Linked DNA regions of Homo sapiens: regions 1 and 3 are each linked to region 2. Evidence: fine-mapped expression QTL. A gene starts in region 2. Each other region holds a variant in brackets. All regions are shown on one strand. Distances are from middle to middle. Region 1 overlaps SCARA5 (scavenger receptor class A member 5). Region 2 holds the start of SCARA5 (scavenger receptor class A member 5). Region 3 overlaps SCARA5 (scavenger receptor class A member 5).

What was found. PIP is the estimated chance that this variant, and not a neighbour inherited with it, causes the effect.
Region 1: its variant is the best candidate, but not a certain one, in a credible set for the expression of SCARA5 in spleen (GTEx, PIP 0.55).
Region 3: its variant is the best candidate, but not a certain one, in a credible set for the expression of SCARA5 in subcutaneous fat (GTEx, PIP 0.84).

The regions. Positions count from the first base shown.
Region 1 is chr8:27,941,799-27,951,982 of GRCh38, reverse strand. All of the region lies in intron 3 of SCARA5 (scavenger receptor class A member 5), which reads left to right. Among named protein-coding and RNA genes, the nearest start is that of SCARA5, 46 kb to the left of the region's middle. RefSeq lists enhancers at 1,614-2,113, 2,114-2,615. The variant T/C (reference allele first, on the strand shown) is at 3,685.
Region 2 is chr8:27,986,460-27,996,643 of GRCh38, reverse strand. It overlaps SCARA5 (scavenger receptor class A member 5), which reads left to right and starts at 3,971. Exons shown (of 9, transcript NM_173833.6): 1 at 3,971-4,387; 2 at 9,014-9,140. The coding sequence starts at 9,029.
Region 3 is chr8:27,959,261-27,969,444 of GRCh38, reverse strand. SCARA5 (scavenger receptor class A member 5) reads left to right here. Exons shown (of 9, transcript NM_173833.6): 3 at 2,903-3,031. Among named protein-coding and RNA genes, the nearest start is that of SCARA5, 28 kb to the left of the region's middle. The variant A/G (reference allele first, on the strand shown) is at 5,130.

The DNA of each region.
Region 1 (10,184 bases), 45 kb after region 2:
GACATGAGTTTGCAGGGGACACTATCCTGCAAAAGTGACCTGCTCTAAGCAACACCCTGTGCACTCAGGGCTAAGAGAGCATGTCACCTGGAGCTCACATGTCCCTCCTTCTGGGTCATGCTCTGAGGACCTGGGACTGGAATTCTCTGGTGTGTTCGAGTTCGCTCGAAGTCATTCCCCGTGAAAAATGTTGAAAGGAAGAAGGGATTCCGGACCTCCTCTTCTCCAGCCTTGTCTCAGGGAACCTCCCCTGCATGAGGAAGAGGAAGGATTTTCCTTCCTCCTCTGGGTACAGGAGGCACATTCCCTGGCGTGGAGCACACTTGCCTTCTGCCTTACCGTGTGGCCATGGGCAGTCGCTGATGGCACCGTGCAGGACGGGACGGGCCTCTGCACCGGAGGTCCAGCCTCGGGTCTCCTGACCCTGGCACTGCCACAAGCTGTGTGACCTTGGGCAGGGGGCCTTGCCCCTGTGAGCCTCGGGGGCCTGACCACTTGACACATCAATGGTCACCAGTCATTCGTTGGTCACCAAGAAAACCCATGTCTACTTTGGGGCTCTTTAAAGGTTCTGTTGGGGGCTCTGGGTTGAGAATTTCTGGGCTGGACCTTCAGAGCTCCATTGGCGCCGATCAGTTTTTGGACCTTGGGAGTGACCACAGCTCCGGCTCCCACACTGCCCTCCTGCTCCACTCAGCACAGCTCTTGTCCTGCTCAGGCATTGATACCGGTTTTCTGTGTCTGACTCCACACTAAACTGTGACCTTTCTGGGGGCACATATATGAATCCCTCTGTATCATTCACTAGCCTAAATTTTAGAATTACATGGACTTGCATTTCAAACCCATTCTGCTCTTTTTAAAAATTCCATGAGTTTGGGCAAATTTCTAAACCTCTTTGAGCACCAGTTTTCTTATCTGTAAAGTGGGGATCCTAAGGCCATCCTCTGAGTAACGTGGAGACCCTTAGATGAGATGATGTATTAAGCACCCACCATTCCTCTTGAGAAGGGGTGAGTCCCTGTGTATGGTACTATAACAGCAGTTATTGGTGAGGTCTGTGGAATAAATGGCTTAGTCCACACTGACCTTTTTTTTTTTTTCCCATAAAGCTGAGTGCTGAAATAGGAGTTTTGTCACAGAGCTCGTTCCGATCGGTTGAATGGGTACAGAGGTGCTGTCTGTTAATATACGCTCAAGGAAAGTGCTGGCACTGGATTCCGAGGCATTGCTAAGTGTCTCAGGTTCCTGAGACCAAGGCACCTGCCCTAGTCCCCATGTGTTAGAGGGCCCCACTCTGTCCCTCTGGCCGCTTCCCAACCCACAAGGTGAGGCATCCTGAGGGCTAAGAGAACATGGCACCTGGAGCTCACATGTCCCTCCTTCTGGGTCATGCTCTGGGGACCTGGGACTGGAATTCCCTTCCCCAAAGCCTCAGCTTTCTTCCAGGTCCTTTGGGCTGTTCTGGGAGAGGGAAACCACGGTGCTGGCCAGAGGGTGACAAAGGGAGGGTTGCTTGCCGGCATTAGGTGGGGATTAGAGTTGGCCGTGCAGGCTGGGATGCCCCCCAAGCACGGGCATGAGGCCTGTGTGGAAAGGGTCTGCTCGAGGATGGGATTGGGGGTGTGTGTGGGGTGGGGGTCTCCTTACAAGGCAGGGATCTGGACCAGGTTCCAGGTAGTCGTGCATATTCCTGGCAACCCCCAGGTCTGGCTCGCGTCAAAGTGCAGACATAGGTGGTTTAATGGCAAAGAGCGTGTGGGTGTCCCTGCCTCAGCCCCTGGGGCTGGCATGCAGTTGGCAGGAGGATGTGCTAGACCCCTTCCCCTCCTTGGTGGCTCTGCACCTGCCCTGGCTGCAAGGACTCACTCCCAGGTGGCCAGTGGGTGGCATTCCCCCAGCGTTTCCAGGCTCTCAGCCCCTTTCTCACCACAAGGAGCCACGGTGGGCTGGCCACATTACTGAGCCTCCCTAGGTCTCTGCTCAGGCCCTGGTGGACCTGCCCAAGGCCAGCCTGCTTGTTCATGCTTAGCAGCACCATCAGCAAGGCCAGCTTAGTCCAGCTCCAGAACTTTCTGCAACAGCCCTTCTTTCTGTGGATGGGCAGTGGCTCCCCTCAGGTCCCACCCCACTGCAACCTGCAGGGCCTCTTCAGGAGCCAGACCCATGTCCCTGGCCCCTTCTGCACCCGGGCAGGCTGTAGGGGAGGACTCAGACCTGAGACACTGCCAGGCAGGGGCTTTTCCCATCCAGCTCCGGGTACCGTGGGCGTGAGTTTCCACGGGGAAAAGCCCTCTTGATGGGATGCGGTTGGGGTGGAAGGAGGACAGGAGGTGAGTCAGGCACTGCTGCTGCTCTCCGATCTGCCTGCCCTGCTTCCAGGCTGAGTTATGCGGCAACAGTGGCCTGATTCCTGAGCTACTCAATCCATAGTGTCCCAAAGACCCCCATGCTCCCACATGGTAGCTGCCAACCTCACCCAACTCCACCCTTACGGTTACAGTAATAATCATATTTCCCATCCAATAGGTTACTTGAGCCTCACCCACTGCTCTGAGGGAGACACTATTATCCCCATTCACAGATGAGAAGACTGAGGTCCAACGAGGTTGATAGTTCTCATAGGAGAAAATAAATAGTTGCTGATTAAATTTAAAGGGCACTGGTGGTTAAGGTCAAAGCTGGGCTGACTCTGGTTTCCTGGTCAAGAGCTCCGTCTCACTAATCCCTGCTGTTCCCCTGTGATTGCCACCTGGCTTCTACTGAGGAAATACAGATTAGCTGGAAAGCCAAGCTCTGAGCCACGTGGGCTCTGCTCATGTGTGATCAAGACAGGCCTGGGCCTCAGGTCCCCTGAAGCTCACTGTTCTGTCCACCACACCACCAGCCTCTGAGCAAGAAGTAGATAGGGAAACTGAGGCACCCCGAAGTGAGGGACAAGGAGGGTGGCTTCCCACAAAGAATACTAGCACCAAGCCAATTGTGGGCTCCACCCGCTTGTGCTTCGTTCATTCAGCCTGGCCATGTGGGTTTTTATAATATCTGCTTTTGCAATATAAACTATGCACATCGATATACACAAACGGCCATAACACCACATTGCAAATTACAAAGCAAAACGCATGAACTCTCAAGGATGGATTTTTAAATTTCCTTGATAAGGCTGGGGCTTATGGAAAAGTGCCCATTCCCGTCTGTAGTCCATTGCTTTCAATTTAACTAGGCGTTTGGGGCTGGAATCGTTTTTTCCTCCCCTTTCAGTCTTGGAGCGAGTCCCACAGCTAGGCTTCCTGCGCTCAGCTGTTTGTTTTTCTTCCTTGGAGAGGGACTGGGGAATGTTACCCACCAAGCCCCGTGGGACTGGCCAGTTTGAAGAGCTCTCCAGGCCCCTAGCTGCTCAAATCCCAAACACATGGAACCGGGCCACACCCTTCGGCCCAGTGGACAGAAAGGCTGGCCTGGCGGTCCTGACCTGCCGGTGGAACGGCCCAGCCCCAGGCCCTGCCGCCTTTGTATTTGATGGAAGAGAAGATAGGGGAAGGGGAAGGAAGGCTCCAGCTCGTGGCTCCCAGCCAGGTCCTGAGACTTCAGTTGTGAAAGCTGAGCTGGGGCCTCCCTGCCTCCCTCCCAGAGGGCCCATATATCTTGTGGCCTTGGGTGTGGCCAAGGCTGAGTCTGAGTAAT[T/C]GCTTGCCTGGAGCAGCCAGACCCTCCCCTAAGTCACCGCCCTCACCCTGGGGAGGAGGCCTGCAACCCAGCCCGAGGCCAAATCTGTCCTCCACCCCCGACCCCACCCAGCTCCCCTCCTCAGTTACCTTTTAGAATTTTCTTTATTCTGGTGAAATACACAGAACATAATATTTATCATTTTAACCATTTTTAAGTGTAAGGGTCAGTGACATTAAGCATGTTTACATTGCCGTGCAACCATCGCCACCACCCACTAGCAGAACTCTTCATATCTCCAAGCTGAAACTGCATCCACTAGACCTGAACTCCTCATTCCCCCAGCCCCTGGCAACCCCCATTCTACTTTCTGTCTCTATGGATTTGTCTTCTCTTGGGGACCTCATATCAGTGGAATCAGACAGTGTTTGTCTATCATGTTTTTATTTTATCTTTTCACTCTGTCACCTAGACTGGAGTACAGTGGCGTGATCTCAGCTCACTGCAACCTCTGCCTCCCGGGTTCAAGCAATTCTCCTGCCTCAGTCTCCCAAGTAGCTGGGATCACAGGCATGTGCCACCATGCCTGACTTTTTTTTTTTTTTTTTTTTAGTAGAGACACGGTTTCGCCATGTTCAGGCTGGTCTCGGACTTGGGCCTCCCAAAGTGCTGGGATTACAGGCGTGAGCCTTTATGACTGGTTTATTTCACTTAGCGTAATGTTCTCAAAGTTCATCCAGGTTGAAGCAGGGGTCAGAATTTCCTTCCTTTGTAAGGCTAAATACTATTTCATTGCTTGGCTAGACCACATTCTGCTTATCCATCCATCTGTCAGTGGACATTTGGGTTGCTCCCATCTTTCGGCTGCTGTGAATAATACTGCTATGAACATGGGTGTTCAGGTATCTGTTCAAGCCCTTGCTTTCAATTCTTTTGGGCTTGTACCCAGAAGCAGAATCTCTTGCCCTTTGGATTTTTAAGCCAATTTGCCCTTGGAAGTCCAACAGAGGCTGGGTGCAGTCGCTCATGCCTGTAATCCCAGCACTTTGGGAGCCCAAGGCAGGTGGATCACCTGAGGTCAGGAGTTCGAGACCAGCCTGGCCAACACGGCGAAACCCTGTCTCTACTAAAAATACAAAAGGTAGCCGGACGTGGTAGTGCATACCTATAGTCCCAGCTCCTCGGGAGACTGAAGTAGGAGAATCACTTGAACTTGGGAGGCAGAGGTTGCAGTGATCCAAAGCCACACTACTGCACTCCAGCCTGGGTGACAGAGCGAGACTCCCTCTCAAAAAAAAAAAAAAAGCCCAACAGGATATTCTGACCACCTGGGATCTCTGTTCGCTAGGAGAGACAGAAGAAACTGAAGGAGAACAGTGAAAAAAAACAAAAGCTAAGGGGATCATGAATTCAGTCATTCTGCAGGATCTCAGTTCAACGAGTTTGCTAAAACAGAAATCAGGGAGGGGTGGGTTGTTATTTGAAATGCAGATGCCCAAGGCCCACCCCTTCCTAAATCAGAAAGGGGGGCATTCCACTCACTGGGATGAAGAGGGCAAAGGAGGCCTCGTCAGATTCTCTCTGGCCCTGGGCACACTTGGTGGTGCCTACAATGACCCATAATCCACTGTGCCTGGGGCTCCTGGTCCTACCCTTAGATAGAGCCAAATTAGCCCTGGCTGGCTGGGTTGTCTCTTACAGTCTGTATTAGTTTGCTGAGGCTGCCATAACAAAATACCGCAGCCTGCATGGCTTAAACAATAGATGTAGTTACTTTCTCTCAGGAAGGCTGCAAGTCCAAGATCAAGGTGCTAACAGGGCTGGTTTCCTTTGAGTCCTCTCTCTATCCGTGGTTGATTGAATTTGAGAATGTGAAACCAGCAAATACAGGAGGTCCAATGAAGGGACCTGAGCATCTGAGGATTTTCTGTGGGGGATCCTGGAGCCAATCCCTTCAGAGAAGAAGGCTGCACTCATAATTCCACTCCTCTAAAGTCAGTTGTTTTCACGAATCCTGGTTTTCTTTTAATCCTTTGTGTGTATGTGCTTGCTTCCTGTGATAGCGTATGCATGTCCCACATTGTTACATGGCAGACTTCATGGTTGTCATTTTTAGAGCTTCATTAAAGTTCATCTGGTTAATGTACCATGATTTAATTGTTCCTAATTGCTCATCCACGACTTCTCTAGGTTTTCACTGCTACAAATAAGAGAGTGATAAATTTCTCACTGCTGTAGCATTTCCCTTCTTTTGGGTTACTTCTTAAATTCCCAGGAGAGAGACTATTTTGCAAAGGATGTGAACATTTTTATGGCTATTGATACTTTTTGCCAAATTGCCTTCCAAAAATATTTGCACAGTCATCAGCAATGTTTAAACACACTAGCGTTCACCACGGTCTTGCCAGCATGATGTAGCACTGTTCCATTACTTTTAGAGATTTCCTTTTTTAAAATTTGCATTTCTTTGATAGCTAATAATCTCATCAAGCTTTCCATACATTTGATTATTCATTGTGTCATCTCTTAAGGAGACTGGCTGTTTAAGCCTTTTGCCTGGTTACTATGTGAGGTCAAATCAGGCATTTATAAAGTGTCTAATACATACTCACTACCATGGGGTGCTATAGGGGGACCAAGGAAGTATAAGACCTGGTTCTTATCTTCCAGAAGGCTATGATTGACACTCACATCTTATTTACTTGTTGTTGATTTCTTTGTACCCAACCTGCTGCTTTGCACAACCTGTATGCTTCATAAATCTTTATGTAGTTAAATCCCGGATGACATGTTTGTTGTCTTTGTGGTTCACAGAGATCAGCACTCAATTTAAAGGAATGCGGAATCAGAACCCAAAATAAGGCTGAAACCCAGAGAGATAGCTTAGACCTGGTCAATTAATATGGACACACATGAAGTAGTGCCCCACAAATGGGGAAGCCACGGCTTGACATCAGTTTTTAAAGCAAGGTTGAGGGTTTGAGTTTGGCAGGATGCAGTCTATGAGTCAGTGTGTGACATGCCTGCCACCAAAAGCTATCGTGATCAAAGTTACGTTCATAGAGAATAAGGGAGGCACCAGTATTATTTGGCTCCATGCAGGTTAGACAACTCCTCAGTGTTTCCTTTTTTTTTTTTCAATTTATTATTATTTTTTTACAGTCTCATTCCCATCACCCAGGCTGGAGTGCAGTGGGCACAATCACAGCTCACTGCAGCCTCTTCTTCCTGAACTCAGATGATCCTCCTACCTCAGCCTCCTGAGTAGCTGGCACTACAGGCCTATACCACCACACCTGGCTAATTTTTTGTATTTTTAGTAGAGATGGTTTTGCCATGTTGCCCAGGCTGGTCTTGAGCTCCTGGGTTCAAGTCATCCACCTGCCTCAGTTTCCCAGAGTACTGGGATTACAAGCATGAGTCACAGCGCCTGACCTCAATTATTTTTTTTTGAGACAGGCTCTCGCTCTGTCGCCCAGACGAGTGCAGTGGCGTGATCTCGGCTCACTGCAACCTCTGCCTCCCAGGTTCAAATGATTCTCCCACCTCAGCCTCCCAAGTATCTGGGATTGCAGGCAACTGCCACCATGCCCAGCTACTTTTTTTTTTTTTTTCTATTTTTACAAAATGGAGTTTCACCATGTTGGCCAGGCTGGTCTCAAACTCCTGACCTCAGGTGATCCATCCACCTTGGCCTCCCAAAGTGCTAGGATTACAGGCATGAGCCACCATGCCTGGTCTTAATTTTTTATTTTTTAAAAAATGTTAAACCTACAGAGAAGTTGGAAGCTATAAAGAGTGCTATATACCCTTCATTTTAATATTGTTAACATTTTATGCCATTTGCGTGTACCTGCTCTCTCTTCTCGCCCCACGTTTGTTATTACCATTTTTAATTTTTGTGGAACCATTTGACAGTGAGTTGCAAACTTCACCCCTAAATATGTTAGTGTGTATTTACAAGAACAAGGACATTGTCTTATATCACCACTATACAATTACTGAATTCAAGAAATCTAATGCTGATTATAAATACAGTATATCCATATTTAATTTTCTTCCGTTGCTCCAAGAATGTCCTTTATAACCATTTTTAAAACTCCTGATGCAGGATCCAATCCAGAATATACATGTGGTTTTCATGGCTCCATAGTCTTTTCTAGATGGGTTCCTTGCCTTTCACTGTATTTCATGACATGGACATTTTAAAGAATGCAGGCCAGTTGCTTGCTATCCTGTCCTTTAACTTGGGTTTGTTTAATTGTTTTCCCATGATTGACGTAGGTTAAACCTTCTTGGCAGTAACACTTTCTAAGTCATTTGAGGAGGTGGATTGTGTCAATTTGTTCCTGTACTGGTAATGGTAAATTTGGTTAAGGTAAATTTGGTCAGAATAATCTACTGTAAAGCTATCTTTTATTCCCTCTGATTAAGAAGTGATCTGTGGGGAGACACTCTGAGGCTGTGTAAATACACTGATTGCCAGCAATCCTTCACTCCATGATTTTAGCATCCACTTACAATTCTTGCCCGAGTCAGTTATTACAAAGGTGGTCATCAAATGTGGCTTTTCTAACCCTCTTCATTGCTGTTTTCCTCTCTGACCGCTGCAATGTAAGGTGGCTGCAGACAGTGGTGTGCTGGTCAGCTCTGATTACGTGCGTCTTTTCCTAACTCCGTAGTCAATGATGTCATGTTGGTAGCTTGAAGTCGGTCATAGTGGGATATTTACACCTCAAACATTGGCAAGCACCACAGCTTAGGCTTCTCCCCAACCCCTTGGAGAACCAGTTGTTAAACATTTATCAGCATACCGCTGGATGCATTTAAGCTAAAACACATTCAGGAAAGAATGACTTTGGCAATAAAGGGACTTTATAATTATTTTTAGTCAGAGTCTCACTCCCGTCACCCAGGCTGGAGTGCAGTGCTCACTGCAGCCTCCATTTCCCAGGCTCAGGTGATCCTCCCACCTCAGCCTCCGGAATAGCTAGGACTACAGGCTCACACCACCATGCCTGGTTTGTAAAAACACAAGCTTTTTGTATTTTTAGTAGAGACAGGGTTTTGCCATGTTGGCAAAGGAAACCTTAAGGAAAGGGGATCCATCTTCAAATATTTAGAGGGCTATCTTGTGGGGTACCCTCATTAGTTAGGATGCAACCTCCTAACACACCCCACCCTTCCAACCTCTTGGTGCTTCTATGTTGGATGGCTCCTTCAAGGCATCACAGGACTGCACCTCTCCCACCACTGGCTTCCTATCAAGGAGCCAGCAGGGAACAGAATGGAACACAGAGGGTGCAGGTCACCTTGAGCAGGAAGAGGGATGCTTCTTACTCTCATCTGAGAAGAAGCAGTGTGTTTGCAGAACTATGGTGAGGTGCAGAGGAGGTGGCATTCATGCTAAATGATGCAGAGGAGATGGTGTTCTTGCTAAATGGCTTTCATGTTCTTGGTAAAGTGGATATAGTTACTTCCAAGAATGAGAGAGGCAAAGCAGGCTTCAGCATTAAGAAGCATGAAGATGCTTTGAGATAGCAGCAAAGGGCATTTTTTTTTCCAGCCCTCCAACCCACTCAAGGCAGCCCAACTCCAGGATGTTCAAGCAGCACAAGAAAGGGCCAAGTCAGCGTAACACTTCTGCAGTACCGTGCAGCCCGAGAGTTAAAGTGGGGAAGGAAGTGGACGCAGGTGCTCAGAGTTCACCACTGATGTATACAAAAGTTGATAAACTCTCCCAGAGGCCGGGGCATCGGAAGGCAGCTCTGGATCCAGGCATGGCAGTGATCCGGGCATGGCCAGAGGAGGGCAGGTGGAGAAGGTCAAGGGGCTGGGATCAACCTGCCAGTTGAAGCAATGGGCAGCTTTCCTAACAGTGAGAGAGCTGGCAGGCTTGGTGGTGGTGGTTGGAAAGTGAGAGAACAGCGTTCTGGATCTCTTTGGAAAGTATCAAGCAACTACCTAGTTCTAGGGAGAGCAGTAGTGGGGGCCACCATCGTGAAGAGGGTGAAAAGCTGTGCGTTCCAGCAGCCAGAAAGTCACAATCATAGGGAGGAGGTGGGATAAAGGCACGTGGAACATACTCTGACTTGGGGCTGCAAGACTCAGTCTCGAGGCCTGGCTGTCACTGGCTAATGGTGGAAAAGCTATTTCTTGCTGGCCTCAGCTCTTCATCTCATGTGAATGGGGGCTGGGCGCAGTGGCTCACACCTGTAATCCTGGCACTATGGGAGGCCGAGGTGGGTAGATCACCTGGGGTCAGGAGTTCAAGACCAGCCTGGGCAACATGGCAAAACCCTGTCTCTTCTAAAAATACAAAAAAATTAGCAGAGTGTGAAGGTGCACGCCTGTAATCCCAGCTACTCAGGAGGCTGAGGCAGGAGAATCACTTGAATCCGGGAGGCAGAGGTTGCAGTGAGCCGAGATCACATCACTGCCCTCCAGCCTGGGTGACAGAGTAAGATTCTGCCTCAAAATAATAATAATAATAATAATAATAATAATAATAATAATAATGA
Region 2 (10,184 bases):
CTATAATGAAGAAATATGTAAAAAAAAAAAAAAAAAGAAGCAAAAATATGAACAGTACAGGATCGATGTGTTCCCTGGGAGAAGATAGAGACAAAAAAGAAGGGCGTGGCCTCAGCTCCACTCTGTGCTCAGGGTGAGACCCAGGCTTCCCTCTCCCCTGACCTCCTCTCTCTGGCCACTGCATCCTCTGTGCTCTGGCCACTGGGCCTTTCTCTGCCCCTCCGGCATGTCCAGTGTGTTTCCATACTGAGGCCTCTGAGCCTTCTGTTCCCTGTGCCTGATGCTGTTTCCTCAGATTGTCACACAACCAATATTTCTGGAGCGTGTACTGTGCGCCAGGCACCCTGCTAGGCATTTTGAAGCACTCAAGTGAGCTGCCTTCCTGGAGCTGCTGTTCTAGCAGACAGTAAGCAAAACCAAGCAGGGTGAGGGGGACTAAGAGTGGCAAGGGGTGTGTAGCAATTTTATTTATTTATTTATTTGAGATCAGGTCTCGCTTTATCACCCAGGCTGGAGTGCAGTGGTGCAATCCTGGCTCACTGCAGCTTCGGCCTGCCTGGTTCAAGTGATCCTCCCACCTCGGCCTCCCGAGTAGCTGGGACTACAGGTGCCTGCTACTGCACCCAGCTAATTTTTGTATTTTCGGTAGAGACAGGTTTTCACCATGTTGACCAGGCTGGTCTCAAACTCCTGACCTTAAGTGATCCTCCCGCTTTGGCCTCCCAAAGTGCTGGGATTGTAGGCGTGAGCCACCATGCCTGGCCTGTGGGTAGGAATCATTAGGCTCAGCAGCATGAACAAAGTGACATTTGAGAAAAGATGGGAATGAGGCAAAGAAGTTAGTTGTGCAAACATCTGGTGGAACCACTCCAGGCAGATGGAACAGCCAACCCCAAGCCATAGGGCAGGACCTGCTGGTGTAACGGGCCCAGAGTTCAAGTCAACAATCAGACTTAATGACATAATTAAAGGTGCTCAACTTCATGAGTCATCAGGAAAATGCAAATTAAAACCACAATATGGCACCTCTACAATGCACCAGAGCAGGGAAAATGGAATAAACATCACTGACACTGACAAGGACAAGGAATAAGTGTAGTTTCATCCCCTGCTGGATATAAACTAGTACAACCACCATAGGAAACTCTTTGGCAGTGTCTACCAAAGCTGAACACAGGGCCATCCTATGCCCTGGCGATTCCATGCCCAGGTATATGCCCAAGAGAATGGCATTCATATGTTCCCCAGAAGACACACACAAGAATGTTCACAGCAGCACCATTTATCAGAGTCAAAAATGGAGTCTGGACATGGTGGCTCACACCTGTAATCCCAGCACTTTGGCTGGTGGAGGCGGGAGGATTGCTCGAGGTCAGAAGTTTGAGACCAGCCTGGGCAAGATAGCGAGACCTCATCTCTACAAAGGATTTTAAAAAATTAGCTGGGTGTGGTGGCATGTGCTTGTAGCCCCAGCTACTCAGGAGGTTGAGGTGGGAGGATCACTTGAGCCTGGGAGGTCGAGGCTGCAGTGAGCTATGATTGTGCCACTGTACTCCGACCTGGGTGATAAAGTGACATCCTACCTCTAGAAAAAACAAACTGAAAAAGCTTGGTCCCTCCATTTCAAATACTGAGATTTCATAGATGAAACTACTTCAGAAGTCTATTGAACCCTCCTCTATCAAGGCAATCACATTTTCATTCAGCTTCTGGGGGGGAAATGCCTACTACAAATGCCATCCGTGATTGAATGGAAGCAAATCATTTTGGGGACAATTCTGATTTTAGTGGCAAGGAGGTATCTGAGCTAAGAGCTGCCGGGAGGACTCTCACCCATGAGAAAACCAGCCCTCCAGGTCATTCCTATACTTCACTGTCAAATCTCCCTTTGCCTGTTCCGGCAGCTTTATTCATAATAGACAAAGATTGGAAACATCCCAAACCCCCTTCAGCAGGAGACCGATATACACATTGTGTGTGGTATGTGCCTATCACGCAATAGGACTCAGTGCTTCGAACAGGGCGGGAGGTGGGAGGACAAGCGAGGATGAGCGTGGAGTCCTCACATGGCAGAAAGGCAGAGGATCAAGCCAGCCCACTCCTGCAAGCCCTTTCTACGGCATCCCAAATACATTCATGACTCAAATACCCCCACAAAGGCCCCACCTCCCAACACTGTTGCAATAAAGATTACATTTCCAATGCTTGAATTTAGGGGGACACTAACTACCACATTTCTTGCTAACATACACATCTCTTTAGGGAAGGTCTTTGGACATCACTTTTTTTTTTAAGACAGGATCTTGTTCTGTTACCCAGTCTGGGGTGCAGTGGTGCGATCACAGCTCACTGCAGCCTCAAACTCCTGGGCTCAGTTGATCCTCCCATCTCAGCCTCCCAAGCACCTGGGACTACAGGTGTGCATCACCACGCCCAGCTATTGTTTGTATTTTTTTTTTTTTGTAGAGACAGGGTTTTGTCATGTTGCCCAGGCTGGTTGGACATCATATTTTGAGCACATTTCTGGCTGTTTTTAAGATTACATTCCTAGGAATGTTGGTGAATTGATGGGGGACAAAAACATTTGTTTCCCCTTGAGAGGCAATGGTACAGGGGAGGGGTTAAGAGCATAGACCCTAGGATCACATTGCCTAGGGTTGAATACTAGCTCTGCCACTTACTGGCTACAAGACCCTGGACAAGTCACTTCCTCTCTGTCTCTGTAAATGAGCATAATAGCAGCACCTGCCTCAGGGGGTTGTTGAATAGGTTCAATGAGCTAATATATAAGAAACACATGGTATATGCTATAAAGTGTTGTCTTCTTTTCCTTCTCCTCCTCCGCTCCCTGGGATTATTACCATAATGATACAATTATCATTTGTTCTTTCTGTAAAATGGAGTTTGATGTTGGAGCTGCTTCCTAGGCAGTCAGGCAGGGCAGTCACTGAGAATGAGGACGGCGTTTCTGACTCAGCTGTGGGCGGGCAGCTGCAGTGACACAGCTGAGTCTTGGCAAACACTTTTCATGTACGAAGCCTGACCCTGGAGTCTTGAGGCTGAACTTTTCACCAACAAACAGGAATGCATTCATGAATGTTACCTCTGGGTGCTGTCCTCTGGAAGCCATCTGCATAGCCTAACTCTGCCACCCTGGCTTGGACAATTATGGTGATTTCTCTGATGCCCCTGATACTACCACCTCAATCTGAATTTAGCAGCTCCCTTCACATATGGTTAGATTGCCTTTAAAGAGATTTTTTTTTTTTTTAGAGATGGGGTCTCACTATGTTGCCCAGGCTGGTCTTGAACTTGTGGGTGGGCTCAAGCAATCCTCCCACCTCAGCCTCCCAAAGTGCTGGGACCACAGGTGTGAGTCACTGCACCCGGCCTAGATGTCCTTTTTCAAACGTAAGCAATCATGCTCAGGTTTAGGATTATTCGTGCCTGGGTCCCCCTCCCATACTGAATTGCTATGGACAGCCAGCTAGTCTTCATCCTGCACCCCCCAGCCCCTGTGCAGCGTTAATGAGCCAGAAACGCTGATTCTGCTGCTGAGTTCCGTGGAACCCCCTGGGGCATTTTCCTGACTACCCCCAGTGTGGCCAATCCGTGTCCACTGAGGATGAATGTGACTCCAGGAAAATACATGAAGTAACTCTGTGCCAAGCTTGGTGAATGAATTGAGCCATGCCAATTCTGTGCTATAAATAAATTTACAAGACTGGTTTTCTTGCGTGGCTCATAAGCCAGGTCTAGCTGCCACTCCCCCAGAAGTCTTCCAAAAAGTATTTTGAGCAGGACCTTTAGACTGGGGTGTTGGAGTCCCAAGGCCAAGGCCGACCGCGCTGCTCTGGGCCCAGCGGGCGTTCCCACACGGGGCTGTAATGCCACGATTGGCCGCAGGAGGGGGGCCGTATTCCAGACCCCATTGCAGAAGCCTCCGCAACTGCTCCAAGAACTTTATTTTATACGGACTGGCGGCGAGAGCAGCTGCAGTTCGCATCTCAGGCAGTACCTAGAGGAGCTGCCGGTGCCTCCTCAGAACATCTCCTGATCGCTACCCAGGACCAGGCACCAAGGACAGGGAGTCCCAGGCGCACACCCCCCATTCTGGGTCCCCCAGGCCCAGACCCCCACTCTGCCACAGGTTGCATCTTGACCTGGTCCTCCTGCAGAAGTGGCCCCTGTGGTCCTGCTCTGAGACTCGTCCCTGGGCGCCCCTGCAGCCCCTTTCTATGACTCCATCTGGATTTGGCTGGCTGTGGGGACGCGGTCCGAGGGGCGGCCTGGCTCTCAGCGTGGTGGCAGCCAGCTCTCTGGCCACCATGGCAAATGCTGAGATCTGAGGGGACAAGGCTCTACAGCCTCAGCCAGGGGCACTCAGGTGAGTCTTGGTACTAATTTTGTCCTATCTCCTGGGCATGCTGTCTCAAAGACAGCTGGAGGAGACTGGAGTGAACTGGATGGAGAGGAGTACAGAGTTTGGGAAACTTCAGACCTAGAGCCTGGAGGTGCCTTCTCCAGGTGGGAAGGTCCCCGCCTGCTGGGCCCGCAGATATCTGCCGGGCCCTCATCCAACTGCCTGGGCTGGAGAGAATGTGAGCCTGCATTTGGGGTGCCAGAGGGAAGCTATTGCCTTGGTGGCTACTCCACCTGACTCATGTCACAGCTCAAGAGCCTACTCAGGGTGCAGATGGCTCAGGTGACAGCTCCTCTCCATGGCTTCGTGTGTGTGCATGTGTGTGTGTGCATGTGTGTGTGTGCATGTGTGTGTGTGTGCATGTGTGTGTGTGTGCATGTCTGTGCGTGTGCATGTGCCAGTGGTGGGATATATGTGGGGAGAGGTTATTTCTAAAATATCTGTCTCTGTCCAGCTTTGGGTTATGATTTAGCTTAACTAAGTACAGTTAGAGGAGGAAAACATTTAAAACCTCCTTAGTGATTCTCTCTTTGGAGAAGGGCCACACTCATGTGATTTTTTTCCTTGGTTTTGATGAGTTTAAAGTGAGGTAATCCAAAGAAAAGCCATAAACCCTGCAGAGTTAGATGCGGGTACCCAGAGAAACTGACTTGGTAGCAGCAAATGAGGCTCGTGCTACCCACTCAGAGGAGGAATTAATGGAGTCCTTCTGATCTCCAGAGAAGGATTGAAGAGCCAGGGTCCTGATATCAGCCCTAGAGTGCATTCGCGATTGCCTTTTACAAAGGGAACTTCAAACAGCTTTGTTTCTGAGACTGGCTAGGTAGGAGGGAGGCCTTGGGAACCTGGACACCCCCTTACCTGGCTGCCAGGCAGAGTCAGAAGATGCTGGGGGATGCTTTTTCTCATCAGACTGCCACCAGCTCCCCTGAGTGACCTTGTTCATAAAGTCATGCCACATGCATTATCTCACGGGAGGCTCACAGTGATCCTGGGTGACCAGCAGCTACCCACCTTCCCATCTTAGAGGTCATGTACCTGAGGCTGAATGAGGTCAGGTAATTGAGCCAAGTTCCCCCAAGAAACCAATACGCAGAGGAGCTAGGATGGGAGCCCTTGGCTTCTGTGTTCCCTGCATTCCTGCAGAGAGCCAGGCCTGCAGGGCGCAGATGGCCCCAGGGCACAGGGCTGCAGGGCACAGATGGCTGAGGGCTTTTCCAGCTCTAAAATGCAGAATCTAGAAGCAGATCCCTGGCTCTGAACCTGCCCTTCTAAGTGCCTTGGGTGAAATTGTCTGGAAGTAAATCATGATTGCCAAGAGGTTAGTGGAGAGGGTGACACCTCCCTGTTAGAGCAAGACCTCCCTCTTTGAGTTGCAAGTTGAGGTCCAGTCTCCTTGGGCTTCATCCACAGGTCACTGTGGCTTCCACATCTCGCCCATGTGCTTCAAGCTCTCAGAGCCCTGCCTCAGTCCCAGGATCCCCACCTGCTGGAGTACACTGGCTGGCAGTCTGAGGTGGGATTCTCTTCTCTGCCTGATCTGGGGCCCAGAAAGTGGTCACCAAAGGGGCTGACATGCAATTCCCAAACAAAGCAACCCTGCAGCTGAGCCAGTGCCCTGTGTAGGAAAACTGTGCCCGGGGCCTCTTCCCGCTCTGATATCCATTCCTTCCTTTGCCTCTTTGGTCTGGGATGGCTTATGTTTAAAATGGGAGGGACGGAATGCAAATGCCATCAGCCTACCCCCAACACAGTGCTCCTGGGAGGAGCACTTGCCATCAGTTTCATCTTCTAGAGCACAGACTTGGTCCAAAGACAGTAAGATCCATGATCTGAGGGTCCCAATGCCTGCTTCCTCCCCCAAGAAAGAAAAACAGCCCCCAAGAAACCTTGGGCAGACAGAACATGCGTAGGTTTCAATTCCAAGTAACAAACATGAGTAGAGTTGTCTGAGCTTTTCCAAGCCCTGTGCACTCACATCTGGCCCCGCTCGGCCCCAGTCCCTCTCCCCAGCAGATCCCCTGGGCTCCTGCTGGACCAGCTGAGGGGTGGGGAGGAGGAAGGAGACAGCTGCCCTTCACACACATTCTGGCTAACAAGCCGTGCATTCCAGCCCCGTCCCAGGAGCTGACCAGAAGAGGAGGAAGGTGGAAATGGCAGTGGGGCCTCACACCTCCACTCCCCAGGGGCAGCGCCCTGTCTGGCTCTGTGTGGCCTCTGGGAAGCAGAGGCTATTGCCTTTGGCAGAGGGAGGGTTATTGCAGGCAAAAGAGACATTGGCCTCCTGCTTCACAGCCCCGCAAGGAGTGAAGCCAGAGGGAGGGCTGCCGCACACAGTGCTCATGAAATGAGGGAGGGTCCCTTGCAACTTAGCAGTGCTGGAGCTGCCCGCGGCCCCACCTAGAGGCCCTGCCTGGGTGGAGGCATTGGGTGGAGGGCCGGAATTGGGAGCCCAGTGAACTGGACACCACTGCAGCACAGGGAAGCCAGAGTGGGTGGTGTCTGGGGCAGGGAGGAGAGATCCTGGCAGAGCCGAGGACCACCCCCTGTTCCATCCCTCCCATAGGCTGGAGGAGAGGCCCGCAGATACTGGGAGCCCCAAGGCTGTGTGTGTGCACATGCGTGTGTGTGCCCGTTATGGGGGATGTACAGAAGGGCTAACAGCAGAGGCGTCCAGCCCTCCTGGGTCATTAGAAGGACATGTATACAGTGACTGGTCAGTTCTGGTCTCTTCTCAGCCCAAATGTCAGAGGTCTGTGGAGGCCAAGCTCAAGTCATGAAAATAGGGGCTTCAGCTGGGTGCAGTGGCTCACACCTGTAATCTCAGCACTTTGGGAGGCTGAGGCCAGTGGAGCGCTTGACTCCAGGAGTTCCAGACCAGCCTGGCCAACATGGTGAAACCCCATCTCTGCAAAAAATTAGCTGGACATGGTGGCTTGTGCCTGTAATCCCAGCTACTCAGGAGGATGAGTTGGGAGGATCACTTGAGCCCGGGAGGCGGAGGTTGCAGTGAGCCAAGACTGCACCACTGCCATCCAGCCTGGGCAACAGAGTGAGACCCTGTCTCAAAAAAAAAAAAAAAAAAAAAAAAGAAAGAAAGAAACAGAAAAAAAAAAAGAAGAAAGAAAATACGGAATTCTTGTTTTGCTCTGCTGCAGAGCAACCCCGCCAGCCGCCTTCCCTGATTATGTCTATTTATGAAAGTTGCCACGCCTCCTTGCCCACCCTCCCTCTGAAGAGAAACTGATTGACTGATCTCTCAATCAACAGGCATTGTCCCCCCACTGCCACCTGCCAGCCCTGCATCCTCTCCTCCCAGCCTCCTCTGGGTTGAAGGGTTGAGTTTGCTCCATACTGGGCCTGGGACCCATCCTCATGGGGCTTTTATCTTCTAAAGGATGCTGTTCTTTGGTTAAATGTCCAGATAGTTAAAGAGAATCAGAAGCAAAGGTCAAGATAAACTCATGGCTGGAACCTTGATGAAAGTAGAGAATAATTTGTAAAGTCACTGAGCATTTATGTGACAAAAACAATATCAAGAAATTGATGTATATACTTTGTAATTTGGCTTAAAAAACAGATTCTTCTCATTACATAAGGAATGTAAATGCATCATAGAAAACCCAGAAAATCTGAAAGCAAAAAGGAATATTAAATCCCCACAATCCCTTCCAGCCAGAGTCCTGTAATACATTTCTCACCCGGAGCCATCATAGCGTCTTACATCCACACGCACCTTACGCGTGCATGTCTTACAAAATGGGATCGTGTTGTACACATTGTTGCGTCAACAGGCTGTTTCCTTTCAAAGAGCATAGGATTCTCCTAAGTCAATGTATATGCTCCTGGACCATCATGGCGTAGACCCAGAGACCCAATGAGTCAGCCTCTGGGGGCCATGCAGACAGAAGCCCTCCCTGGCCTAAAGCTGTCCAGATGCTTAGTGCCTGGGTGTCCCTTCAGAGGCTCCCTGCTCCTCGGGCCCCACCACAGTAGATGAATCCCTGCTGTGGTCCTACTGAGCCAAGCTCCTTCCAACATGCCAGCCCCGTTGGATTTGGGAGCAGTCCTGGTCTGCTCAGCTTTGTTTGCAAGTGGACTCTGTACCCCCTCTGAATGCCCCTTCATATCTAGTTTCCTTCCTTCATTTCCAACACAGAACAGAAGCTCAAGTCTCTCTGGCATGCCCCGGGCTTCTGAGGGCTCAGAGCCTGCTCTCAGGTTACCTTTTGAGTCAGCAGGGTTCCCTCCTCCTGGCCCCACCCAGTGTAACCCACAGTGACCCCAGCTCAGGATTCCAGCCCCACTGAGAGTTGTTGAAAGGAATGGACACATCCCACCATCAGAAAGGCCCAAGGGCCTTGGTCTTCTGAAGCCCTGAGGAAGCTGGGAGTGGGGGCATCACGGCCCCAAGGACCTGGAGGATGGCACCTGGGTCCTGGTGATGAGCAGAGGGTCCCGGTGTTCAGGCTTAGGGTCAGGGGTGGGCACCTTGTTCTATCCATTTGCTTCTGTTTCCACCTACAGTTGATTCTCTGTCTCTCTCCCGGCCTTCGTCCTCCCTCTCCTCCCCTCTTGCCTTCTCTGCAGCTGTTGCAGGGTGTGATGGAGAACAAAGCTATGTACCTACACACCGTCAGCGACTGTGACACCAGCTCCATCTGTGAGGATTCCTTTGATGGCAGGAGCCTGTCCAAGCTGAACCTGTGTGAGGATGGTGAGTGCAGCTGGCTCAGACTTGGGGCACAAGATCTGGCCTGGGGGTGGGGAAGGAGCCCTACCACCACCCAACCTTGGCATTGCCTTTAAGTGCTTGTGACCTCCTCATGTAATAGTGCATATATTGAACTTTATGCTTTAAAAGGTCTTCTCCATGGGTTTTCTCATTCATTCACTTCCACAAACCTGTCAGCAAGATGAGTACTCATTTTACAGATGGACAGATTTCACAGTCCATCAGTCTTATGGTGGTCCAGCATGGAGCCTCCTGACTCCGAGGGCCATGCTTCTGCTCCTGAGAGAGTGAGACTCGGGTCAGGCAAGGGCCTCTGAGCCAGTCAGTGCAGACCCTCTCAGGTGAGGAGAGGGGCCTCCCACCCACTTCCTGAAGCACTCGTGAGGGGCAAAGAGCTCTCCAAGGTGCTCATCCTGCCCCTGGGTGCAAGGCCCTGGTCTTGCCACAGAAAGGGGTCCCCAGGCCAGTGACCCAGAAGGCCTTGCATCTCAGGGGCTGCTTATTTGCTAAAACCCTGGAGATCCAAGTGATGCAGCTTCCTTTGGAGGAGCCCAGAGCGCTTTTCCACCAGCTTGGCTCCTGTGCACCCAGTAGATGACTGATAAGTTCTTGCTGCATGCAGCACATGTCAGAGAGGAGAGCATTGCCCCCACGTCAAAGAGAAATAGAATGAAGCTTACTGAGGAGCCTTGCAAAGACTTCCGGCCAAGGAGAGACAGGCCTTTTCCTCTCTTGTTTTGCTCCACTCTGCCAACTGCCTCTTGAAATTACTCAAGAGCAATGACTCCACTCTTCTCTTCCTCCGACCCTGCATTCCTCCCACAAGGCGCTGAGTGTAGGGAAAGAACCGTGGTGGCTTAGAGTGGGGAGAGTCTCTGCAGGCAGAGGACACAAGGAGATTTGGGCTTCTGACCAATGAACCTGCTCACCCAGCCCTAGGATTGTCCACCATGGTGGCTCTTCTTCTGGATTCCAATTGACAAACATATTTTGAGGATCCACGACGTGTCAGGCCAGGGTGAGCAG
Region 3 (10,184 bases), 27 kb after region 2:
CCAGAATATCACATAGTTAGAATCATACGGTATGTAGCTTTTTTAGATTGGCTTATTTTACCAAGTTAATTACTCATTTAACATTCCTCCATGTCTTGTCATGGCTTGATAGTGCATTTTTAAAAAAATTATTTTTAACAAAAAAGTAGGCATACGTTTTGCCCTGGCTTTGCTGATAGGATCATTTTGGAGTGTTTGTAATCTTCTGCTAAGTTTAAATAATTTGAAAGGTTTACCCAGCTAACATGCTTCTGCCACTTGGAAAAAAAAAGTCCATAAATGTGTTTTGGGCAGCCTTTGTGACTTGTCGTTGTCTTAAATTGTCTTCTTTCCCTTGCAATCATTCTCTAAGGGCCTTGCCAGATCATTCATGTTCTGCTTGTCTAACCATTTGTGGGAAACCTCTATTTGAAACCCTCATTATGTTCTATTTAAAATATACTTGGTTTAATGCACAAAGTAACCAAGTCTTGCTCAAAGAACTAAACTCTCTCAAAGGAAGGTCTGTGTTCTGCGTGTTGGTTGACTAAGGCACCTGTCACAAGTAGGTGCTTGCTATTAAATAGAAGCCTCAGGTAGAGGGCAAGGGAAATATTCTTTTTAATGGGGAAAAAATAGACATCATTGCACATTGACCCACTCCTACAGTGAACTAGCAACACATATGAAGATGACAAAGGCAAACTTGAAGTTAACTGTGTTCACGGCTGTGTGATTTTCCTCCTCCTATTCTGTCATGAGGCTAAGGAGACAGCAGGGCTCAGAGCAGGAGAGCTGAAACTACCACCATGAGAATGAAACCAGTAATTGTATAATATTATTCAATGCTATACCTCCTACTCTGACTCTTGAGAGGAACAGAGTTTTCTCTGGTAAGTTGCAACCAGACAGCTAGTGGCTCTCACCAGAAGGAAAAAAATAAAAGAAATGCTACCAGGAGCCTACATATTTAGGAGCAAAACCCTTTGTAGAGCCTAGTGTATGGTAAAGGATGGAAAATCCCAGAAAAGGTTTAGGGTGAGTTAGAAAGATGTGCTCTATTTTGTCTTAGCGGAAAATCAGCTCAACTCTTCAAAACTTGCTAATGTAAGGATGAGTGAGAATAGTCATTGACAACTTGCTCGACACTGCACCCAATGTCTTATGGAAATATTATGTAATAGCTCTGTTTAGCTGGTTTAACAGCAGTATTTGTAATAAAATGAAGTCAATGAGTGAGAAAATGTTCCTTATATAACAATACCTCTGGGGGACCAGGGCAGTGTGGATCGTAAGGTACCAATAGTCACCACCATTTTCCTTGTGGTCATAAAACCTCCTGAGGCCAAGGAGGTAGTAATGATACCTGGGAGGCGATATGTAACCTTTGAGGTATCCTTGCAAATGGGAACCTATGAAGGAATTGCAAACATGGTACTATCCTTCAGGATGTTTTCTAAATATCAATTATTTTAGCCTCTCTTGACAACCTTTTTCTGCCCACTCCAGTTAGTGACACTCCTCTCCTCTCCTTTCCTTTTTCCTTTCCTTTCCTTTGACAGTCTTACTGTGACACCCAGGCTGGAGTGCAGTGGCGTGATCTCAGCTCACTGCAACCTCTGCTTCCTGGGTTCAAGTGATTGTCCTGCCTCAGCCTCCCAAGTAGCTGGGATTACAAGCACGCGACACCACGCCCAGCTAATTTTTGTATTTTTAGTAGAGACAGGGTTTCACCATATTGGCCAGGCTGGTGTCGAATTCCTGACCTCAAGTGATCCACCCACCTTGGCCTCCCACAGTGCTGGGATTACAGGTGTGAGCCACCGTGCCTGGCCTTAGTGACACTCTTGAAGTGGGGACAGTCCTTCTGGAGAGGGGTCTTACCCACAGGGGGTAAGGAACAAGCATTAAAGGGATAAGCATTTTTTAAAAAAATGCCGTCCCCCCGCCGCCCCCACCCAGTGATTCCTACATGCCCTGCTAACATCAGGGAGAGGATCCCTTCTTTCCACTTCCAGTCAACAGAGCAGCTGGAGATCAGTAAGCCTCTTCATGGGCCATCTGAGAAGGCCACCTTGAAGGACCAGTTCAGCTAAAAGATCAACCTGGGTCCTGGGGCCGGATTTGCTGCTAACTGACATTTGACATTCTTTATCTGTACAACAAAGGGGTTGAATTACATGGCCCAAAAGGCCACTACAGCAAGGATATTTCCCTGTTCCATTTTGAGCAGAAGCTGAGGAGTGTCACAGGATGAGGTTACCATGTTTTCTAGCAAATCTAAATGCAAGGTTGCAAGCTGGTCAGAACTGGCTTACAGATGTGTTTTGTTTACACTCCCCAGTGTTTTGTGTTTGATGAATTAGTTGCCAACCCTTAAAAATAGATGTAGAAAATTCTGGATCTGGCCACACCCACCACTCATCCCTGCATAGTAGCCTCTGCCAGAGCAGGCACGTGCCGTTGGCCTCCCCACAGTCCCACTGGGCCCATTTCTCTCATTCCCATACCTTCCCAGCCACTGTAGAAGTTTGAGTTTGCAACTCCTGTTTTAATTTCTCTTTATGTTCCCTGGATCCCATGGGACAATGACACTTTTTAAAGCCACATATCCAAGACTATTTCAAGGTCTTTCTGCTGCTTGGACTAGCTCAAGAAGAGTTGGTTTTTGTGAGCATGTGAGCTGTGGACATGTGATCTGGCTTGATCATGAACACAGAGAGTGGGAGGAGAGCTAGAGGCTGAATGTGATGGTCCTGGAAAGCTCCCCATCAAGTGGCTGCATTCTAGACATGCAAAAGGGATGTGAGAAGTTCAACATGAACATCTGCATGCATCAGGGAGAGATGAGACCAAAAAAGAAAAGAGCTTATGGGGTTTTTAAGTGTCTTCTTTCCTTCCTCCTCTTACCCTTATTGTCCAGGTCCATGTCACAAACGGCGGGCAAGCATCTGCTGTACCCAGCTGGGGTCCCTGTCGGCCCTGAAGCATGCTGTCCTGGGGCTCTACCTGCTGGTCTTCCTGATTCTTGTGGGCATCTTCATCTTAGCAGGTAAGAGCAGGCCATTTTTGTCCTGGTCTTTTGGGATGAGGAAGGAAGACCTGGAGCTTCCACTCTTCATTCCCACTGTCATGAGCCCAAACACTGCCCTTGTCACCATGGAAACCATAGAGGAAGAAGGAAGAAGCTCTTCAGTAGTATTGCTTGTTTTGCGTGGGAGTAGCTGGCAGGGGCTATGTGAGCTTGTGGAATCAAAGAGACCAGCAGTAGAGACCTAGCTGCTTGGAGTGGCTTCTGACTTTTCCTGCATCATTGTGGGGCATTGTGCATTACACTGGGCCTCCCTGGGCCTCTGGGGTATGGTTTGCTCTGAGAAGGCTGGGCGTTGTCTAAGCTTCTGGTCCTGGGGTGCCATGAAAATAGTTGTGAGGCACTTTGCTTCCTGGTAAACCTGCTGCCCTTTGCAGTTACTGTAGGTAGAATGGGTTTGCCCCAATTCAGCCAGGCTCTCCTTACCAATTTCTATCTTTTGAGATGGGCAGGCGATGGGCTAGGGCTAGCATGTTCTCCAGCCATGGAGAAGGAGAGCTCATGGACTCAAGAAGGGATGGAACAGGAGCCTGTTGGCCCCAAGCTGTGAGCAGCCCAGCTCATCATCTATAGGTAGTCCCTATGAAGACAGATGGTGAAGCAGATGGCTGTAGTGGTCTTCTCCTGACTCCCTTTGAAAGGAAGGGCTGCTCAGTTCCCACCTTTCTCAGTGGAGGTAGGTAGGACTGGACGCAAGTAAGGCTGAGAGATCAGTTTATTTCCACCCAACATGTCTCACATGAGTACCTGCCTTGCAGCAGGCTCCATGCTAAGATTGGGGGCACAGCTAAATAGGACCCAGGGGCTTCTCTCAAGGAGCTCCCAGCCTAGGAACTGAGGGGGTCATGCAGATAGAGCCCTGCCTCAAGGCAGAATGCAGCGGGCACTGTGATGGGGTGTAGCCCAATGCGATGGTGACAGAGCAGGCACATAGAGGGAGGTGCGGCTGCTGCATGAAGCAGGTGGAGTTGGTGGGAGCGAGGCTGCTGGCCAGGCCGAGCTGACTTGGAGCACTGAGGGAGGGGCCCTCGGGTGAAGCCCAGGGCAGGAATCTGGAGGTCCAGCCCTTACAGATAGATGACCTTTTGCTGGAAATTTTGAGGCAAATGGCCAGGACCTCCCCGGTCTTGATTCACTTTCCGTCAAGCGGGACTAGTCAGTTGGGTGATGTAATGGGGTGTTCAATGCTGCCTGAGCCTTCAGGTTTCCACACTCAGGGCAAAGACATTGGGGTGGAGTCTGTCCCATCAATGAGCAACCTGAGGGGCAGCCAACAGCAACAACGAGAGAACCTCATTATTCATCCCTGGGACCAGAGGACAGGGGCCAGCAGGGTCCCTCGCAGGCCGAGTGGGCCAGAGGAGGATTTGAACATGTTCTCGGGCTGCTTGGTGAGAGCTTGGGATCTGAGTTTTGTGGGTTTGGCTGCGAGGACCATAACAAATTTCTGGAATGTTCAGAAAGCATTCCAGCCCAACAGGAAACCAGAACAGGGACTTTTAGGTGACAGATACAGAAAAGCTCTGCAGAACAGGAACTTTTAGGTGACAGATGGGGGTCTGGAGGAGAGGGACCAGGCTGGTGGGGGGTTTGGGGCAGGCCTCTGGAGGTCCTGGAAGGGCATCGTCTCTTGGGGAAGAGAAGACTTGCAGTGGAGTGACGGTTCTCTTCTGGTGTCTGGATGGCTGCCATGTGGAAAGGGTAGACATACTCTATGTGACCCCAGAAGGCAGAGCTAGGACCAACAGGTGGATGTTATTAGGAGACAGATTTCCATTCAAAATAAAGGACAGTTTGCTAACAAGTAGTGCCGTCCAGTATGATGAAAAAAAGGCTTTCTCCTGGCTTGGAGATTGAATGAGGTTTATAATAATGTCCTGGAAGCTTCAGAAAGGAGGGTGGAACATGGTTTCCCAATCTAATAGAAATGTTGCCATACCTCCTTAATTGTTCCAGCATTTTTCTGATCATTATAATTATCTTAGAACCTGAAGTTTCTGGGTACCACATTGCCTGTGTTGAACAAAAATTTGGGGTGGATTGGGACGGAGCTGGTGCA[A/G]CAATGTCGTACCTGATCTCTTGGCCCTGGGTGTGTGGCCGCTCTTACCTCCCCAGATTCTTGTCTGGAGAATCATGCTGGCCTCTGGGGGAGGTTTGGTGAGGGCAGCATAGGAAAGGGACTTGGCAAGATGGTGGACAAGTCTGAGGTTCTTTAAGGAGGCTCTGTCTGATCTTAGAGAGGTTTCTTAAGATTGCCTGATTGAAGACCTCAGCGATGCTCCTTCTCAGAGATACCAAGATCAGGGGTCAGGGGAGATCCACAGTCCAGTGTGAAGAAGAGCTTGCCTGGCCTTCTGTTGGGTGTCCTGCCATGGGAGAGGGCTTCCCCTTCTTGGGTAGAACTCACTGCCTGTGCCCAGAGAGGTCACCTTGCACAGGAGATCCATTTAAACCATTCTTAAAACCTCCTTGTCAATGCAAATCTCATAGCTCCTACAACTGGATGACAAAATTGTCCACTGCAACCCAGTGCCATATCTGAATATGGGATTAGCAACATCTCGGTGTGCAAATGCTTACTCTTACTGTTTCCCAGTATGAAAAATCTGTAATCAAACTACACCAAAATATGAGTCTTATAAGCCCCACATAGGACTTTTCTCAATTCATCTTCTTGCCCAAATACTGAAAGTAAAAGGCAAACATGTACCTCACGTTTATGCATTATCCAAGTTTACCTGTTTGAAGGTTAATCCGGCCACCACCCAAATTATTCTATCAGTTGGATTCTGCCCATCATCCAACCTGACCAGTGTCCTCCTGGGAGCTTTACTCCAATAATCCCATGCTGGCACTGGGTTCTCTTCCCTTAGCTCATAGCCTGTCATCATCTCCCAAGGAGACGGCAAGAGCCTCCTCCTACCTCCAATACCTCTAAGCTTTTCTATCTCTTCAACACATTTTGATTATTACCTTGGCTGACCGTTCCCTATTATGTTTTCATTCTGTTCCCGATTCATTTTTGAACAGTAGAGACCATCAGGTTTAAGTTCATGAACTAAAGAATTGAGATTGCCTGGTCGTGTGGCCAGGGGGTCCTCAATCCAGCACTTCAGGCAAGATGTCCTTTGCAATAGAATTAAGGGGTCAGAGGGAGCTCAGTCTTACCTATGGCTCTTCTAGGCAGTCACTGTGGTGACTGGGTGTGGTCATCAGGAACCATCTCTTCTTCCCCTTTCCTGAGACAGCTCTGTAGATAAGTCTGAATTCTCACTGTGGAAATGAAACAGCAGAAAGGGGAAGTGAAAAGATCTGGGATTCGAATGTGGGGTGAGGCTGCAGCATCGCAGCAATGTAGCAAGACCACTGGTCTACAGGGAGAGTCCCTAGGGAAATATGGGCTCCTCCTGCACCTTAAATTAGTTCTTTTCTAACAGCACCATTCGGTCGTTGTCATCATCATCCTCAACAAGTGCTGAATTTGTTCATGAGTGTTCGGTGAGTGCAGGGCAAAGGGACAAGCCCTAGGAATAAAACGTCATGAGATGTAGGCCCTGCACAGGAGGGTTTAAAATCATGAATACATACACCCATTGTCGGGCAATGTGACGTAGTTTCTGCTGTTGCCAAATTATACAAAGGAGAGCCCAATCTCTGAGGGCTGGAATGGTTGGGGAAAGGCTTGGCCTGCGGAGAGTTGTCCACCTGGCTTTGAACTGAGTATCCCTTTTTTGGATCACCTTGTTTCAAGCAGGTCTGTCCCTGGACTTTGCAGGAAAGAACAATATGCTCAGAGCCCATGTCCATCTACACTGTAGCTTCCTGATTCTATCACGCATCTTGGGAATAGGAGCATAATGCCATCAACCTTTATTGGGACACTGTCAGAAACAACCCTGTGAAATTTCACCCCTTGTGCTTATTGTAAGAATGATGTTGAGGATGTTATTTGTTGCATTACACAATGCTGTACTCAGGGGACCCATGCACCAATTATTTTCTGTCTCAGTCATAGAAGGAGTTATGTGTTCCTCGAGGAATTTGTTTTCACCTTATGGAGACTGTGAATCTGAAAGTCTTTAAAATTACTTTCAAGGAGGTAATTAACACAAACTTAAGAGTCAGCTGTCATCCCTTGTATGAGGATATGTGAATTTGAAGGTCATTAAAACAAAAACCTGGGGACAGAATTGTGGTCCACCTGCAGCAAGTATAGAGACTTCAGGAAAGCATTTTTGTGTTAGTCTCCTTCCTGGCTTCATTCGGGGTCTCTCTACTTGATCTTCTTTACCTGCATCTCATCTACTTTAATCTTAGTGTAGTTAATGTATCCTTGTGAATTGCCTTAATTCTTTACGGAACAAGGAAGGGTATTATGTACAGTTTTATCTTTACAAAAATTTCTGCCTATTCTACTTGATTCTTCAAATGCATGATGTTTTTAATATGTGAATGAATGACAGAGACAAGGGAATCTAGAAAATATTTGTAGAAAAAAAAGATGATTATTTCAGTTTTAACCAAGTACCTAATTGAGATGAATATGGAATTGCTACCCAGGGACATTTAGCTAGTAGAAGTGGCAGGTGTGTGATTATATTAACACATCTACCATGTTATATACTGCATTGACATTACAGCATTTAAGAAGAATATTGAGACAGGCAGGACCGTGTAGACTTCACGCTGGTTACAAGTAGGGACTTTGGAGCCAGCCTGTCTGAGTTGGAACCCTGGCTTCTCTATCACCAGCTATGTGACATTGGCCGAGGCACTTGGCCAAGAACTCCCTTCTCTGAAAACGGGGGAAATCAGCGTACTCCCTATATTAGTCTGTTTTGCATTGCTAAAAAGGAATGCCTAACATGGGATAACTTATAAAGAAAACAGGTTTATTTGGCTCATGGTTTCGTAGGCTGTACAAGCATGGCACTAGCATCTCCTTGGTCTCTGGTAAGGCCTCAGGAAGCTTCCAGTCATGGCAGAAGACAATGGGGAGTAGGCACGTCATGTGGCAAGAAACAGAAAGGAGGAGGTCCACCGTCTTTAAACAACTGGTTCTCATGTGAACTAATGGAGCAAGAACTCACTCATTACCATGAGGGGGATGCCAAGACATTCATGAGGGTATCCACCCCCATGGTCCAAAGACCTCCCACTAGGCCTCACCTCCAACACTGGGGATCTGACTTCAACATGAGATTTGGAGTAGTAGCTATTGTTATTGCTGGCATTGGTATTACCACTATTATTAGCATCGTCACTCTTACTTTTTCTTCGTTTTCTTTGCAGTCAATTAACCTTGATAGCATAACCTAGGGTTTAGCCCCAGGTTATCTGTGAAGGCTCTGTAACCTTGGGAACATCACTTTGCTGTCTGAATGGGAGTTCACCCATTTGTAAAGTGAGCAAATTGGGCAAGATTGGTGGTCTCAAACATTTTTTACCATGACCTACACAACCAGTACACACACATAAGCATAGCTGAGATAATACTTAAATTTGTAATGCCTTTCTACTCTATTCTATTTATGTTTTTTTAACATGATCACAACTCATTTATTTCATAATTCATGAACAGGATATAAGCTGTAGTCTGAAAAACAATGGGCTACATGATACTTCTATTGTTCTCTGTGTCTTTCGAGCATTCTGGGAGTAGCTATATTCTCTTCAGGATATGGACTTTGAGGCCAGACTTCTGGGTTCAAATCGAGGCTGTACTATGGAATGGCTCTATCATTTTGAGGCAAATAATTTAACCTCCAAGGGACTTGGTTTTTTCATCTGTACAATGGGTTGATCGTGGTGCCTACCCCATGGGGCTGTTGTGAGGACTGAATTAAATAATACATGAAAAATTAAAACTCTTTCACTGCCTGGCACGTAAGTACTCAGTAGGCTGGGACAGTGGCTCATGCCTGTAATTGCAGCTCTTGGGAGGCCGAGGCAGGAGGATTGCTTGAGCCTAAAAGTTTGAGATGAGTTTGGGCAACATAGTGAGACCTCATCTCTACGAATAATTAAAAAATGAGCCAGGTATAGTGATATGTACCTGTAGTCCCAGCTACTCAGGAGGCTGATGTAGGAGGATCACTCGAGCCCAGGAGTTCAAGGTCGTAGTGAGCCATGATTGCATCATTGCGCTCCAGCCTCAGTGACAGAGCGAGATCCTGTCTTTAAAAAAAAAAAAAAAAGTGCTCCAGAAATATTTGATATTATTATTCCCACAATCAGAGACAGTTTGCTTTCAGAATAGCAAAGGATTACAGACCTACTTGTTTAGCCTGAACACCCAGTAACTTTGTCTATAAACAGAACTAGGCTCAGTGCAGTACGTGTCCATATGCACATGTTTCCAATAAACACACAGGGAAGCCTGGAGACATTGTTGGAGAGGTCCTTGAGGTACCGTGACAGCGCAGGGCTCAGTAAGCCAAGAAACAGGAACAGAACAGCATTTCCAGGATTGTAGCTCTTTAGGGGAGGGAGCGATGGAGCCAGCAATGGCTCCACCCATGGCACGGAGATGCTTAGCTTCAGTGGGCATCTCCTACAACCTCCCTCCCGACTTCCCAGACAGACATGGTGTTGTGCTTTTCCCAAAAAACAACTGCGAGTCACAGAAACCCCTTCCTTGTCCTCCTTGACTTTCCCATACACTGTTTCTAGTTCTTCTTGCCGGAACAAATCATATCATAACAAGGCATTCTCCTCATCCTCACGATTGCTCATCAGTGAGTTGGTAACACCAAGGAAAGTGAACCCAGTTCCTCCACCTTTGTGTCTTTGGGCCCCGGTCTTCACACTCACCATGCTGTATTGCAATGATTGGTTTCTGTGCTGGCTCTCCTCCTAGTCCGGGAGAGCTCTTTCATGATAGGGCACCGCACCTTGTTCACAGCTGTCCTCCCACTGCCTACCATCATGTGCCACATATAGCAGGTAATTAATGGAAGGATCAAATTGAATGTCTCAACAGAATAGCCATCCTCCCAACAGGCTCCAGGTGTGAGTAGTCAACAGAATTAGACACCACTCCTGGGGTGGCCTAGCCAGGGGGGAGTGTGCCAGGCTGTGACCATGGATGTTGATATTAGTTTAAATTCTCATG